Linked DNA regions of Homo sapiens. The protein of the gene in region 1 purifies or fractionates together with the protein of each later gene. This does not show direct contact. Each region holds a gene or a part of one and is shown in the gene's direction. Other genes may lie near its edges.

The links.
Region 2: the proteins of SLC25A43 (region 1) and TFAP4 purify together in Homo sapiens (affinity purification with mass spectrometry; one large-scale study listed by BioGRID and IntAct). This does not show direct contact.
Region 3: the proteins of SLC25A43 (region 1) and NDEL1 purify together in Homo sapiens (affinity purification with mass spectrometry; 2 studies listed by BioGRID and IntAct, with this or other methods). This does not show direct contact.

The regions. Positions count from the first base shown.
Region 1 is NC_000023.11:119,402,324-119,405,972, forward strand, and holds part of SLC25A43 (solute carrier family 25 member 43), read left to right. Parts: intron 1-3,649.
Region 2 is NC_000016.10:4,263,007-4,266,655, reverse strand, and holds part of TFAP4 (transcription factor AP-4), read left to right. Parts: exon of another isoform or gene 1-154; coding exon of another isoform or gene 155-204; exon of another isoform or gene 205-965; intron 966-1,773; exon of another isoform or gene 1,774-2,306; coding exon of another isoform or gene 2,307-2,989; intron 2,990-3,649.
Region 3 is NC_000017.11:8,442,354-8,446,002, forward strand, and holds part of NDEL1 (nuclear distribution protein nudE-like 1), read left to right. Parts: intron 1-1,573; exon of another isoform or gene 1,574-1,796; coding exon of another isoform or gene 1,797-1,823; intron 1,824-1,906; coding exon of another isoform or gene 1,907-1,918; coding exon 1,919-2,004; intron 2,005-3,357; coding exon 3,358-3,511; intron 3,512-3,649. UniProt on the Homo sapiens protein: Required for organization of the cellular microtubule array and microtubule anchoring at the centrosome. May regulate microtubule organization at least in part by targeting the microtubule severing protein KATNA1 to the centrosome.

The DNA.
Region 1 (3,649 bases):
CAGCAGAAATATCTGCTTAGTTGGATTGACGATCAAGAGTCCACTCAGTAGTCTGTTGGGAGCTAGGTTATTGTAATGGGTGGCTTTCAGATGTATCAAATAGAAGACCCCCCCGCCCTGGAACTTCACAACCGCTTGTCTATCTTATCTAATAAACGTTAGTTTGGGTCCCTGCAGCTCTGAAATTGTTCATAACCAACACTATTTCTTTATTGAATAAGCACTTCATGAGCTTATGTTTGGCTGCACTGGCTGCCAACCTGTTAGGTTGAAGTATTGGCAGTTATAATTACACATATCCAGGGTGTGTGTTGTATCTGTGCTGGCTGAAAGGAAGGGGTTGCTGCAATTCACCAGTGTATCCAGTCTCACTGGAAAAAGCTTCTGTGCATGTATGTGTGGGGGTGGGAGGAAGAACAGAAAAGGGAACAGTGCCGCCCTAGCAAATCAAAAGTTTAAGATGCATGGACTGAGATGACATCATTGGCGGATTATCAGGGTTGCCTGCCCTGACTCTGAGATTCTAAGGGGAACAATTGATAGGACTTATCTCTGTATCAGATGGGAGAAGTCTGCGAAAAAAGGACTTCCTATGGTTCTTCTTTTTAATTGTGTATATTTGATATTGAGACTCTATAAAAGAAACTGATATAAAATACGGCTCCTCTTCCTAGTTCATCAAGTCATTCAGTGAATTAAGGGCCTGTTTCCTCTCCGCTTGCCCCTACCAGTCATTTCCTTGTCAGAAGTGTTGAACTCCCTTAGGCTCTATGCTGAGGACTAACACAGGGTCTGATACATTGTAGACCTTCAATAAATGAGTAGTGAATTAACTATGCCCTAGAAGTGACCAAGTGGGATGGGGAATAAGAGTGGGACAAGGAGAATGAATGGTATTTCTTTGGGCATTTCAAACTCCACCTTCTAGGTGGTTCCAGCTTGCTGCAGACCGCCCCTCCAGTCAAAAATTTCTTTTTTTTTTTTTGGAAGAAGTATTGCTCTGTCGCCCAAGTTGGAGTGCAGTGACGCAATCTCGGCTCACTGCAACCTCCACCTCCCGGGTTCAAGCGATTCTCCTGCCTCAGCCTTCCGAGTAGCTGGGATTACAGGTGCACGCCACCATGCCTGGCTAATTTTTGTATTTTCAGTAGAGACGGGGTTTCACTATGTTGACCAGGCTGGTCTCGAATTCCTGACCTCGTGATCCACCTGCCTTGGCCTTCCAAAGTGCTGGGATTACAGGCGTGAGCCACCACGCCCAGCCCCAGTCAAAAATTTCTACTTCCTCTGTTTCCCCTGTCCTTTCTGAGGTCCCCCTCCAACTTGACTGGCCAGGGTATAGAAGAGGGAGGAACGAGGAAGTGGGCAGGCAGGCAGTACAACTGAGGCAGATAGTCTGTTGGTGAATGCCACCTGTTTGAGAAAAACCTCTGTCAAACTTGGTTTTTCCTCTGCTCTCACACCACAACAACAACCCTCAACACAGAAGACTTCTGTGACCAAATGAGTGTGGGGAACCCCACACTCTGATAAATGGACACCAACTAGGTGTCCTCTGATTCAGTTCTGACACTGTCTACCTGGACATAATGTCAGACCAAGCCACAGGTTAAGGGCTTGGTCCCCAAGAATGGCCCCCAACCAGACACTAGTCACAAGTCCAGGCCTCCAGAACTTTTTTTTTTTTTTTTTTAAGACTGAGTCTCGCTCTGTGACCCGGGCTGGAGTGCAGTGCGTGATCTCGGCTCACTGCAACCTCTGCTTCCCGGATTCAAACTATTCTGCTGCCTCAGCCTCCTGAGTAACTGGGATTACAGGCGCCCGCCACCATGCCCAGCTAATTTTTGTAATTTTTTTACTAAAGAGAAGGTTTTGCCATGTTGGCCAGGCTGGTCTCGAACTCCTGACCTCAAGTGATCTGCCTGCCTCGGCCTCCCAAAGTGCTGGGATTACAGGCATGAGACGCCATGCCTAGCCAGGCCTCCAGAACTTCTGACCAACCAGCTTCAAGTTGGGGTTCCCACGACCCCCTCTTTGGGTTCGATTAATTTGCTAGTGCGGCTCACAGAACTCAGGGAAATAGTTAATGTTTACCAGTTAACTACAGAGGATACCACAAAGGATACAGAGAAGAGATGGGCAGGGTGAGGTAAGGGGCAGGGGGTGTGGAGCTTCCATGCCCTCCCTGGGCACGCCACCCTTCAGGAACCTCCACATGTTCAGCCATCCAGAAGGTTCCCAAACCCTGTCCTCTCGGGTTTTTATGGAAGATTTGTTACAGAGGCATGATTGACAACCATGTAGAAATGTGACTGGATGAAAAGCACATGATCTAAACCCAGCAAGGCCTGTCTGTTCAGACTTTTCTTGGCCTCTATGCAGCGTTCCTTTCTCTAGGGCAGAGGTGTCCAATCTTTTGGTTTCCCTGGGTCACACTGGAAGAAGAATTGTCGGGCCACACATAAAATACAATAACACTAACGATAGCTGATGAGCTAAAAAAAAAAAAATTGCAAAAAAATCTCATAATGTTTTAAGAAAGTTTGCAAATTGGTGTTGGGCCACATTCAAAGCCATCCCGGGCCACATGCGGCCTGTGGGCTGTGGGTTGGACAAGTTTGCTCTAGGGTATGGGGCAGGACCCTCTCTGGGATGAGGATCTTTTAACCCACAATCAGATTAGAGTCCTACCTTGGGCAGGTAAAAGGAGGGCAGGAGAAGGTCAAAGAGAGAAAGATTCTGTTTCCTGAGACCTAAAGTGCCCCAACATTATAACAAGGACTAGGGAAGTTAGGAGCCAGGAACCATGGGTGAAAACCAATGTATGTATCATAGCACCACATCACCTTTACTTCCCTGTATGTTTAAAAGCAGCTGATTAACTCAAATGACTGTTTCAGTTAATGCGGCTAAGGTAGGTTGACAAAATGAAGTCAAGACTCCTACAGCTTGAAGATGTTTTTAATCAGTGAGTGTTTACTTGAAAGCAAAAGAGCTAGCCTAGAACCCCTTAAATGCTTTCACCTGAATGCCCACTCTTATTTCTCATGCAGCAGCCCCTGGCCTATGGGCAACTGAAAGAACAGGAAATGCACCTCCTCACTGGAGGTTTGAAGGCTAAGGAACTGGGGATGCTCTCATTTTAAAAAGATAGGCCGGGCACAGTGGCTCACACCTGTAATCCCGGCACTTTGAGAGGCTGAGGCGGGCAGATCACTTGAGCCCAGGAGTTTGAGACCAGGCTAGCCAACATGGCGAAACCCTATCTCTACAAAAAAAAAAAAAAAAAAAAAAAAAATAGCCAGGCATGGTGGCGCACATCTGTAGTTTCAGCTACTCAGGAGGCTGAGGTGGGAGGATCTCTTGAGCCTGGGAGGTGGATGTTGCAGTGAGCCCAGATCATGCCACTGTACTTCTGCGTGGGCGATAGAGTGGCCACCGCACCCGGCCCAGAACTGGGCACTTTGGGAGGCCGAGCGGGGTGGATCACCTGAGGTCAGGAGTTCGAGACCAGTCTGGCCAACATGGTGAAACTCCGTCTCTACTAAAACTACAAAAATTAGCTGGGCATGGTGGCGTGCGCCTGTTGTCCCGGCTACTTGTGAGGCTGAGGCATGAGAATTGCTTGAACCTGGGGAACGGAAGTTGA
Region 2 (3,649 bases), on another chromosome or scaffold:
CAACCATCCTTCATCAACAGGAACCCCTGGTTGGTCAGCCATCAGAAGCCCTGGTTGGTCAGCATTCCACCAATAAGAATTCCTGGTTAGCGGCACTCCACCAATCACAACCCCTGGTTAGCTCCTATTCCACCAATCAGAAGCCTTGGTTAGAATGCATTCTATTAAAGGACTCTGTCGGCGGGTACTTCCAGGGCAATTTAGGTGAGTTATATTTGAGGGTCTTGGTGGCAGATTCAGGTCCCACGAGGAACTGTACCTTTTGGGGGGAAATTTGCTTTCTTGGATTTAAGAAAGTGCTTAACCTAAGTTAAGCACTAGGTTAGCCAGCAGCTGGTTTCTGAGCCAGGAGACTGGGCTGATGGCTTTGGAGAGGAAGGAGGCAGGATGGAGCATTGGAGAAGCTGGGCCGGCAGATTCTGATGCAGAGGAGGAGGCGACACAGGCCCCTGATCCCAGCCCCAGCTCCTCTTCCTTGTGAGAACTTCCGGCTGGGGTTTTCGGGACTGGGGTCTGGTGGTCTCCTTTGGTCTCCCAGTTAGTGGGCTGCCTTGCGGGGAAGGGACGGAAGAGGCTGAGGGTCAGCTCCCAAGAGCAGAGGAGTTGGTGGGACTTGGGCCGGGAGGTGCAGAAGGGTGCATCTGGCTGCACCCTGCCCTGCCCAGCTGCTGGGTGTGACCTTGGGCAAGTCACCTCACTTGTGGGCTTGTGTTCAGAGGGGCAGGGGTGATGGCTGAGCTTGCAGTCACACACCCGCTTCTGATAAGTGGCGGGCTGTGTGAACTAGCAGTCAGTAGAGGCGCTTCAGTGGGTTGGCATCTGCAGGTTGCTGTTGTGCCAGGTCTGGCTACTTGACCTTGGGATCATCACCTTCCTTCCCACGACCCTGCATTGCTTGCTCACTGTAATCTCGGCCACCCCACTGGGTTTTGTGAGAATCAGGCAGGGAAAAATGTCAACGAGGTCTGTGAATAATAAAAAGAGTTACACGATTACAGCGATTTCCGAATGCCTGGTCCTTTTTTTTTTTTTTTTTTTTTTTTTTTGAGACAAGGTCTCACTCTGTTGCCCAGGCTGGAGTACAGTGACATGATCACAGCTCACTGCAGCCTCAACCTCCTGGGCTTATTACATCCTCCCACCTTAGCCTCCTCAGTTGCTGGAACAATAGGGACACTCCACCATGCCTGGCTGATTAATTTTTTCTAGTGATGGGGTCTCACTATGTTGCCCAGGCTGGTCTTGAACTCTGGGGCTCAAGCGATCCTCCTACTTTGGCCTCCCAAAGTGCTAGGATTATAGGTGTGAGCCACTGTGCCCGGCCTAGTCTTCTCTTTTACAGGGATAACTGTCACCTGCCAGTTGGGGCATCTGGCTCTGTGGGCCGGTCAGAGCTCATTCTGCCCTATGGCCTGACACCTGCTCTGGGGTCAGGGTTCACGCCCAGCGCTTGCTGCAGCTGGACCCTACCCAAACCTCTGTGCCCCCCTCTTTACATGGGAGTCTTCAGGCCACCTGACTCAGGAACATTGTGACAATTCAGTGAGAAAATTCTCGCCAAAAACTTAAAAAAAAAAATGTATCCCTCTGTTGTGGACCCTCCAGGAGGGCCAGCTCTCAGGTGGCCCAAGGCTGGACTTGGTGCTCCCTTTTCACCCCCTAGTCAGCTCTGGCTTTTGGGCATTGCCAGGAGGGACCCAGGGGCTGGGTGGGCAGGGGTCTCTCCCCACATCTCTCCTGAGGGGGATGGTGATGCCTCAAGATTGCACTTACCTTGTGTTGTGGCTTCCTATGGACATCTCTTCCCACCTCTTACCTCCAAAGAGCCCCAGCTTTAAGCCACCCACTGCAGAGCAGTCCTGGTCCCCTTGGCCTGCTGGCCTCTCAGACATGGTATGGTCTGAGTTTGTGCCAGGCCTGGGAGCCTGGACTCCGCCCTAAGGCTGGGCCACACACAGCCGTGCAGCAGGCCTGCTCCAGTCCCCCTATCACCTCCACTTCAGGGCAGGGGAACCGGGAGAAGTGAGAGCACTGACATCCAGCTGACCGACCCTAAAACCATCCCCTCTCTGCCCTGCACCCTAAAGTCTCATGGAAAGTGGGGGGCCCGGGCCCCTTTTGCAGTGCGGACATTTCAAGACCCTGTAAGAGACTTGTACCCTGGGTGCAGGCCCTGGGCCTTTGGGTCCTGATGGAGGAGGGGGCTTGGCTTGATGAGGACGGAAGGAGGCTGATTTGCATCCAGACTTCCGGCGTTGGACACCTCTCTATTGGGAGAGGAAGCCGAGGCCGGGGAAGGGGCAGCGATGCGTCCAGGGTCCCACAGGGAGCCAAGGCTGGACAGATGGGCAGGCTGGGTGGGGCCAGGAAGGCCACGGCTGTTTCCAGCTGTTGCAGATGTGCTGCCTCCGGGGTCCGTGCAAACTCCTTTCCGCCTGCAGGCTGGCGAAGGGGCCAGGGCACACAGCAGGGGAGTTAGACTTGGCAGCCCCTTGACCCCAGACTGCCTTCATCAATGGAGCAGGAGCTGCCCAGAACCCTTTTCCTGTTCTCCCACATTCAGGGGCATGAGCCCCCTTGGCCCAGTCCTGGAACAGGGCACCCCGGGAGGGCCCCTCAGGAAGAGGCCGGGGCTGCGGCTTCGGGTGGGGCCGGCAGCCTCTGCTGAGAGCCCAGCATCTGGAAGCCATCAGGCCAGGGGCGGGGGGAGTTGCAGGGGAGGTCCAGGGAGGGGGACATGCCTCCTCCAGGCCACACACAAGCCCAACCCTCGGGAGCGTGGCCTTGGGCCCACAACCGCTGCCTCTGCACCCTGGCCCGCAGCCCCGCCCCCTGGCGCACACGCCCCGCCCTCGTCCGAAGCCACGCCCCCAGCCAGCAGCCACGCCCTCTTCCCCCAGGCTGCCTTCTCACCGCACTGGCCACTGCTCCTGCAAGGGTCAGCAGCGCTCCCCACAGCATGGTGGGAGCCTCGCTTCTCCGGCGCAGGGTGGGTCTATCTCTTGGAGTGGGTGGGCTGTGGGGAGCCGTGTCCCCAGGGGTTGTTGGCTTGGTGTCTTTTTGGGGAGTGAGTGGTACTTGTCTTCTGTGAAGTCTTAGCCTAGCGGGGCTGGGGCTTGTGGTGGGAGGCGTGGCCGTGAGGGTAGGAAGGGAGTGGGGACGTCTTCCTCAGTCCTGGGGTGGCAAAGCCTGAGACGCTGAAGAGGCGCTCCAGGTGCCTAGCAAATCACTCAGAAGTGTTCCAGGAGCGGGGACAGCGTCCCTGAATGTCGTCTGCATCCCGCGTGCATCAGAATCACACCACGCACGTTTCTGGGCCCCACCGGGCCTGCTAGTCAGACGCTGGGGCCAGCACCCGTCGTCTGCATAGTTTCTAAGCTCTTGGATGTTTTGATGCTCAGACACACTGGGAATTCTGTTCCGGAGGAGAGACTGCTCCCTGTGAGGAAAGCCAGGGAGGGGATGGGTTTTTGTTGTTGTTGTTGAGACAAGGTCTTGCTCTGTTGCCCAGACTGAAGTGCAGTGGCGTGATCATAGCTCACTGCAGCCTCCAACTCCTGGGCTCAAGCGATCCTCCCACTTCAGCCTCCTGAGTAGCTGGGACTACAGGCATGCACCACCACACCTGGCTAATTTTATTTTTTTGTAG
Region 3 (3,649 bases), on another chromosome or scaffold:
ATAAAGTGGTACTTTGAAAGTCAAGAGGGAATATTGAAAGGATGATTATAAATCAGTTCACATATTTATTTATTTATTTTAGAGACAGGGTCTTGCTGTGTTGCCCAGGCTGGAGTGCAGTGGCACAATCATGGCTCACTGCAGCCTCAAAATCATGGCTTACTGCAGCCTCATTGCTTCTGGGCTCAAGCAGTCCTCCTGCCTCAGCCTCCCCATGTGTTGGGATTACAGGCATGAGCCACCGTGTCCAGCCTCAATTCAAATATTTATTGAACTTCCACTGTGTTCTATGTTTGATGATGTGGAGAGATTTAACCGTTCATTCCTTTAAAAAGATTTTTTTTTTTTTTTGCTAAACCTTCCTGAGTGGCTTGTGCTAGATAAACTCCAAGTTCTATGCATCTCCAGGTTTTTATTTATTTACTTTTTTTTTTTTTTTTTTTTTTTAGATTTTTAGACGGAGTCTCGCTCTGTCCCCCAGGCTGGAGTGCAGTGGCGCAATCTTGGCTCACTGCAAGCTCCGCCTCCCGGGTTCACACCATTCTCCTCCCGAGTAGGTGGGACTACAGGCGCCTGCCACCACGCCCGGCTAATTTTTTGTATTTTTAGCAGAGATGGGGTTTCACCGTGTTAGCCAGGATGGTCTCAATCTCCTGACCTCGTGATCCGCCCGCCTCGGCCTCCCAAAGTGCTGGGATTACAGGCATGAGCCACCACACCTAGCCTATTAATTTACTTTTAAAGCTGGTCTTGAGTTCTTGCTGCCTAGTATGGAATAGGTTGAATCAATTATGGTTTAATTCAGTAAATATCATTGAGTATCCACTATTGTGCAGGCATTGGGCTGAGACGGAAATAAGTAAGCCAGCCTAACAGGCAACACAAAGGTGTAAGCAAATGCATTGCCCTGTGGTAATAATATCAGTGAAAGCATGTGTGGGGTACAGAGGTAGCAAAGAATGCAAGAGATTTTAATGCTGTCCAGTTGAGGGCAAGAAAACCTCTCTGGAAAAGATGACAATTAGGTTTTAAGGATAAATAGTAGTTTTCCTATTTAGGGGAGCCACTCCAGGTAGAGAAAACCTGGAGTAGTTTTCCATGCCTGAAAGAGCCTGGTGTGTTAAGACAGTTTCGAACAGTACTGCCAGAATATAGAGTGGGATGCCTGGGGAGGGGGTGCTAGGAAGCAGTAGGCATGCCTCTAGAGTGGGCCTGACGATCAGTTGGGAGTTGTAGGTAGCCAGTCCAAATGTTAGTTAATTAAATCGCTTTTTTTCTCCTCTCTGAATGCCTTGGGAGAGAAGAACCAGGATGAGAGAGAGAGATCATTGAAGTTGGAGATTAGTGGGCTTTTGGAAGGAAGCTTTGGACTTAAAAGATGATTAACAGGAGGTTTTTAGAGATTTGATAATAGTAAATTATTGGGAATGTGGTGCCTGATTTTCTAGTAGGGTCACCTGGCATAAAATGTTCCAAGCAGATGTTTTGAAGCAGTTGTATACCTGGGAAGGGCAGCATGCATGCGGTAGCAGCATCTCTGACAATAAGCTTGTTTCTGTCTCCCGATTCGCAGAAGACCACGTGGCCTTAAACCAACTGCTGCAACTCTGTGTGCAGGATGATTCTGTGGGCCCAAGTCACCCAGCGCCTATGCTGCAACCAAAAGTGCCTCCTGTCGCTTTGTATCAAAGGACCTTTGTCATGATCTCATTCACAATATTGGTGGTCCCTGAGAGTGGAGCAGTGGAGTGATTGACGTGCCTGAGTTTGAAGAGAGTTAACCACTGGAATCTCTCATGTTTTATTCCCTCCAAAATGCTGCAGTTCAGTGTTGTCCCAGATTTTATGCTTGTGCTTAGATTTCTCTGTTCTCTAATTTGTTAAGTTTGTCTTTAATATTTCACAGGCTTTCTTGATCATGGATGGTGAAGATATACCAGATTTTTCAAGTTTAAAGGAGGAAACTGCTTATTGGAAGGAACTTTCCTTGAAGTATAAGCAAAGGTAATGTTGGAAAGCACACTAAAAGTAGGGGAGGGCATTTGGAATACACCGTGTCTTGTTTGTGCATTTTTCTTTTTAACATAAAGCTAAATTTAGAATTGCAGATTTAGGATTCTAGGATTGAGATTCTACAAACAGTCACCACATGGGTTGTATTTAAATAGTGTAAACATGCCATAAGTCTTTATATTGTTCAAATTATTAAAATAGTAGGAAAACTGTCATTTATGATTTCTTCTGATTGTTACCTGTTCTATGCTTTTTAGTAGGCGGGGCCATCTTTGGCCCGTTTTGCATGCACTGATTCTGCCTCATCATTTTGGTCATTTGGAGATTCTGATAAGCTGTCTGGGGCTCCATAGAACAGACTTTACGTTCTCCTCAGGCAAGCATGATCAGTGTCTGGAGCCAGCAAAGCTTTGAGGGAGGGGGAGAAGCTTCAGGGGCATGGAACGTTTTATAAAATTTCAGTTATTTGGTTGGGAGAACTTTCAGGCAACAACCTTTTAAGCAACAAAACTTGTCTCAAATTTCTTTTTTAAAAATGGGATCTTGCTAAATAAAATATTGATACATTTTCCTATTTTGGTTAACAGAGTTTACTAAGTCTTATCAAACCTTTTACTGCCCTTTCATTATTATCACCGAAGTCAGTTATTCTATTGTGCCAGTGGATATGAAAGGTGTGTATCTATGGCAGGGTTCTTAATCTTTTTCTGTGTCATAGATGTCTTAATGGGCTGGGGTAGCCTGTGGACTCCTCAGCATAATATTTTTAAATGCATAGAATAATAGAATTACAAAGAAAATCAATTATATTGAAAAAAGTTATCTAAATATTAAACTAATTTATGGCATAGTAACATGTACTTCTCTATTAATGCATTAAATAAAAAAAGATACAGAAGTGAATGTAATAACTACCTAATTTTGAAATAGTCATGAAAATAAATATATTTAGAGATACATGCAACGATTCTATTGTGATGTGAAAATATGTGTGATTTCTGTTGAATATGGTAGAAGGAAATGCCAAATTTGTTACTTTAATGAAAGTAAAAATGCATTTTTCTCGCATCTGAGTTCTGTGGTGGAAGAAGCTAATGGTATTGAGCCACGTAGCCTTACTTTTCATAAATATTGTAATCACTGACTTGTGGCTCCTTTTTGGGCTTGTCGTTTTCATTGAACCCTGAATATATACAGTAAGAGATGCAAAACAGATTGTCTTTAGTATATTTTATGAGAGCATTAGCATTCAAGCAAAAATTATCGAATTGCTCTATAATCACCTCCAAGACAATCCTTGTGGTTCTTAGTGTAACTCGTCTTTCCCACTTTGTTTCTGATTAGCTTCCAGGAAGCTCGGGATGAGCTAGTTGAATTCCAGGAAGGAAGCAGAGAATTAGAAGCAGAGTTGGAGGCACAATTAGTACAGGCTGAACAAAGAAATAGAGACTTGCAGGCTGATAACCAAAGACTGAAATATGAAGTGGAGGCATTAAAGGTAATTGCAGCAGTAGACGCTGGGGTCTAATGTGTTGAGTTTTATTAAAATGAGAAATATGTTTTTCAGGTGCTTAAGAGCAGCTGGCGACAAAAAATAGTTTGAAAAAAACGCTTAAAGTGAATTTTTGAATAAAAT